2 separate regions of the Homo sapiens genome follow, and region 2 is linked to region 1. A link means that fine-mapping ties the variant in region 1 to the expression of a gene that starts in the linked region. Tissue or cell type: whole blood. Region 1 holds a variant in brackets; the other region holds the start of a gene. All regions are shown on one strand. Distances are between the middles of the regions.

The links. PIP is the estimated chance that this variant, and not a neighbour inherited with it, causes the effect.
Region 2: it holds the start of SFI1, and the variant in region 1 is fine-mapped to the expression of SFI1 in whole blood (TOPMed, PIP above 0.99).

The regions. Positions count from the first base shown.
Region 1 is chr22:31,608,177-31,610,931 of GRCh38, reverse strand. The region is part of intron 22 of SFI1 (SFI1 centrin binding protein); the gene reads right to left. Among named protein-coding and RNA genes, the nearest start is that of MIR7109, 12 kb to the left of the region's middle. RefSeq lists an enhancer at 168-814. The variant G/A (reference allele first, on the strand shown) is at 1,324.
Region 2 is chr22:31,495,462-31,497,961 of GRCh38, reverse strand. It overlaps SFI1 (SFI1 centrin binding protein), which reads right to left and starts at 1,426. Exons shown (of 33, transcript NM_001007467.3): 1 at 1,325-1,426. RefSeq lists silencers at 405-464, 1,365-1,584 and an enhancer at 1,075-1,344.

The DNA.
Region 1 (2,755 bases):
CAGATCTGTTTACTGTTGTGCTCCCCAACAGCCCTCTGAGAGCCACAAGCCTGTCCACAGCCTCCACAGGGGTGCCAGGGGCACCCTAAGAGTCACGTGCAAAATGCTGCTGGGCACGTGGAAGAAGACCCTCAGTCTGAGGGGGGAGGAGGAGGAGCCCCCACTTCAGCTGCAGCTTGGAAGAGAGGGCAGCCTGTTTTGCCAGGGTGGAAACCAAGGCCCAGTCACAGCAGTCAGAGCAGCCCAAGCCACGGATGGGGAGGACAGCGCTGGTCGCCAGGCCATGCCCTCTGGCTCCCTGGGTTCTGCAGGAATGGGCCACATCCTGCATTTTGTTTTTGTGTCACCAGATTCTCCCTTTGGTGAATCCTTCTTAGGCCCTGAGAGAACTTTCTTTTTGAGACAACAGAACAGGGTTGAGAGCAGGGCACAGATGCCAAGATGAGGAGCCCTCCAGGCCCACTGAGGCAGGCAGGGAAGGCGGCAGATCACAAGTGGGAGGCACCCACATTAGTGCTGCATGCTGATGCCTGGGCTCTGTCCTAAGTGTGTATCTCTCTACCTGTCATCTCACTTGATCTCCACGACAACCCCAAGAGGTAGGCACTGTTATCCCCATCTTACAGATGAAGACATTGAGACTCAGAGAGGGGGCCTGCTGGAGGTCACACACACAGCCAGGTTATGACCGCCAGCCTGTACTTCTTCAGCACTCTGCATAATGGGTCTTGTGACATCCTCCCCTCAGTCCCTCCTCCCAGTCCCACCCTTGGCCTGCCAAGGTGTGCCTGAGACACTGAGGCCTTAATACAAGCCAGTCAATTGTTCCCCAGGTATTTACTGTGTACCTACTACGTGTACACTGTCTTGCAGCCCAGTCTCCCAAGCCTCTCATACCATCTGTAATGGACGTGGCAACCCAAGCCTGCCACCGCCTCCCTCTAAGGAAAGTCCTTCAGAGAGCAGCGGCTTCCGGCAACACTCAAACCCGTCGCCTCTAACTTCCCACCATGGCCAGGAGTGGGCACCTGACCCTTAAGGCAGCTGACCCAAACTGGCCAAAAGCCTCTGGAGCTTGAAGCTGCACGGTCAGGTGCCCAAAGGGTCAGGTGCAGAAGCTCCAGAGCCCAAGGTCTGGCTAAAGCCCTCGGCTTCTTTCTTCGTAAACTAGAAACACAGTGCTGGTTTCTGAGCTGAGGAGAAGCTCCAGGACCCAGCAGCACATTCGTGGCGCAGTAATGCAGCCGTGTGGGATGGCTGACCCCAGGGTTTTGTCCCCAGGATGTGTGTTGAAACATGCTCATTAACACACACGCTACAGTC[G/A]GAACCAAACCAAAGCTGATTCAGTTTTGTCCTGGAGCAAACTCTATTAAACCAACTTAACCACTTGGTCAATTTCTCTATGGGCCAATTTAAACAATTTCTAAATGTTTTCACTTTTATTTGTATTTTCATTTATTCTAAAAATGAGCTGTCCCCTTCAGCGTGTCAGATTCTCCTACTATGGGACCCCTAGCTGTGTTAGGAGACAGCTCCCCATGGGTCTGCCGCGTGTCTGTGCATCTTGCAAGCAGGGGCATGGACTCCTGTTCTAGACTATCTTTCCAAAGATTTTTTAAAAGAGACTAGGTCTTGGCCAGGTGTAGTGGCTCACGCCTGTAATCCCAGCACTTTGGGAGGCCGAGACGGACGGATCACGAGGTGAGGAGATCGAGACCATCCCAGCTAACACGGTGAAATCCTGTCTCTACTAAGAATACAAAAAATTAGCCTGGCGTGGTGGCACACACCTGTAGTCCCCGCTACTCTGGAGGCTGAGGCAGGAGATTCGCTTGAACCCCAAGAGGTGGAGGTTGCAGTGAGCCGAGATCGCACCACTGCACTCCAGCCTGGGAGACAGAGTGAGACTCTGTCTCAAAAAAGAGAGAGACTGGGTCTCATTCTGTCACCCAAGCTGGAGTGCAGTGGTGTGATCATAGTTCATTGCAGCCTCCAGCTCTTGGGCTCAAGTGATCCTCCCACCTCAGGCTCCCAAGTAGCTGGGACTATAGGTGTGTACCACTGTGCCCTGCAATCTTTCCAAAGATGTATATACAGCAGGCAGCAGGACTTCCTGAGATCGAATTAGAAAGTCTCTGGCCCCTAAACATTTAAGGGCCCAGCTACACAAGGAAGCAGGACGCTAACACGGTGGGGGCTGCCCTGACAAGCAGCAAGGACTTTCCCATCAAAACAACCCCCTCCCCAACCACCCCAAGCTCCTCCATTCCAGCTTCTTTTCTTTATTTCTCTGTAGATCTCAAGCTCTAGCCTTCCATTTTAACATAAACTGGTTGGCAGTCAGTTGGGAATAGATTTCTAAGATATACTGGACTGAACAGTGCCCCCTCCACACCTGCCGTATTCATGTCCTTCCTGGAACCTCACAATGTGACTTTTATCTGGCACTAGGCTCACTGCAGATGTAATTGGTTAGGATGGTGTCACACTCAAGTAGGGTGGGCCCTTCATCCGATATGACCAGAGTCCTTCTAAGGGACCCAGACACAGGAAGGGAACGATATGTCAAGATGGGGCAAAGACTGGAGCAATGGGTCTACACGTCCAGGAAAGCCATGACAAGCAAGAAACAAGCTGGGAGAGGCAAGGAAGGACCCTCCCCTAGAGCCTGTGGAGAAGCATGGCCCTGCCACACCTTGATCGCTGACTGCCAGCCTCCAGAACTGAGAGGGCAATTTTGTGTTGTTTGAAGACT
Region 2 (2,500 bases), 110 kb after region 1:
ACCATGGGCTATAGAATGCATACTGTGTTAGCAGACATGTAAAGTAACATTAATCTCTTTGTACATCTTCATCAGAGTTCCTTGGTGACCAGGTGCCTTGTTAATGACCAGTAATATCTTGAAAGGAATCCTTTTTTCTGAACAGTAGGTCTCGATAGTAGGCTTAAAATATTCAGTAAACCACACTGTAAATATGATGTAAAGACATTCAGTAAAGAGATGTGTGGTCATCCTGGGTTTGTTGTTGCATTTACAGAGCATAGGCATTTCTAGCTTCGTCATTTCTAGCTTCGTCATTTCTAGCTTTTGATATAAAGTGAGAGACATGGAACTCTTCCTTTCACTGAACACTTAGGGGCCACTGTGGGGCTATTAATTGGCCTAATTTCAATATTGTTGCCTCTCAGGCTACAAGGAGGACCGAGAGGGAGGAGAGAAACAGGGAACTGGCAGGTAGTGGAGCAGTCAGACACAACACTTAAGTTTGCTGTCTTATACCAGTGAGGTTCGTGGCCACCTAAAACAATTGCAATAACAACATCAAAGATCACTGATCACAGATCACTGTAACGGTGCACCTGAAATAAAAAGTTTGAAATATAGCGATAGTTACCAAAGTGTAAGTGACAGGAAGTGGGCACATGCTGTTGAAAAAATAGTTGCTCGGTGCAGGGCTGCTTGCTACAAACTTTCAATTTGTAAAAAACACGGTATCTGTGAAGTGCAATAAAGCGAGGTATGGCTGTACTCAAGTCCCTCACATCATTCATTCAACAAATATTTACAACACATCTACACAGCAGTTAAGAAACCTGAACAGCCTCCCATAAAAACAGGTACCCACCTCCCACGCGGGGAAGGCTTCCAGGTTTGTTTACTGCGTTACTCCCTGCGGGCTCAGTGGGAGTAAGGTCGCCCATATACCAGCCCTTCCGCTCCTGGGCCACGGAGCCGGGAGGAGGAAACCCCTGATTTGGATCCGCGCACGCTAAGGGGCATTGCGTGGACTCGAGCACCGGCCAGGAGCGCACTAGACGCCTGGGAGGATGCGGTGCCCCCAGGGCGGAAGACAAGAAGCCGAGAAGACGCGGCGGGAGAGGATGGCAGGCTCCGGGCCCCGTCCTGCGCCCTCTTGTCGCACTTCCTCCATTCCCGCACCACAGACCCGCAGGTAGACAACATCACCTGCACTTTCAGGGGAGGAAGCGGAGGCTCGGACAGATTTCACCGGGCTCGGAGGAACCCGACTGAGGTCCTTGCCGGGCTCACTGCCGGAAAGGCCGAGCCCAGAAGAGGGTGGGGACGTTAGGGCCGGGCCTCGTACCTGGGGAAGCCGAGCCATCGGGCCTGACGTTGGGAGAAAACCCGGCGGTATACGGCGATCCGGGACCTGCTTCTTAACTCCCGCGCGGTCCACGCCCGCCTCAGCGCTTCGCGCGCCTCTAGACGCCAGTCTCGCGCGGGCCCGCCCTCGTCTCCACGGCGACGCGGCGCGCACGAGGACCACCCCGCCCAGACCCCGGGGCTTGCGCAGCCTCAGTCGGGTAGGTGGCGCACTTCGGGTTGCTTTGCAGCAGCAGCAATGAGAATCGGTTTCGAGGGGCGTGGAGCATGCACCCTCTGGGCATCCCCACCGAGGGTTCTTTATCTCCTTGGCTCGCCAGCTTCGCTCTGAGCTCAGCTTGCTACTGCTCCTCTTAGACAAGAGAAGTGGGAGGTATTCCGAGGCGGAACCCCGAGTTACGCCGCCCGCGGCCGAGCACTAAAGATGAGGTTCCAGCTGGGAGGCGGCTGCGTACGAAAGTCCTCCCTCCCTCACTTCCGGACTCGTGCGTGGGCCTCTCTGGCTTTTGGTTCACAGGGAGTGGAAACCGGAACCCGTGGAGTATGACCCGCCCATGCGTGGACCCGGCAGGTTGCTACAACTTGCACTTGGAGGGGAGAGGTCCCAAGGCCCCCGAATTAGAAATGCCAGGCTCATCTCTTTTTGTAACCCTTCATTTTAAAATGTAATTAATAAGCACTCTTTTTGTTAAATTTTTAAATTTGGGCCGATCCTAATAATCTTAAAAATAGGAGTGGGAGGGGTAAGTGGGACTTTTCAAATACTTTTTTACGTGCTTTGTAAAACATTTGAAAGCACGTGAGATTCCTGGTGCAGAGACTAAAAGCAGTAGTTATTTATTTGAAAGATTTTACGCTAAAAACAGGAAAATTAACTTGTTGGGTGTCTCGGGCTTAGCATCACAGACAATTTGTATTTTTGCCCTATTTTCTACATGCTAATTTTTGCAATTAAAACATTTATTATTTATTTTTTGAGAAGGAGTCTCCCTCTGTAGCCCAGGCTGCAGTGCAGTGGCGTGATCTGGGCTCACTTCCACCTCCACCTCCCGGGTTCAAGTGTTTCTCCTGCCTCAGCCTCCCAGGCGCACGCCACCACGCCCGGCTAATTTTTTTTTGTTTTTTTGATAGAGACGGTTTTTACCATGTTGGCCAG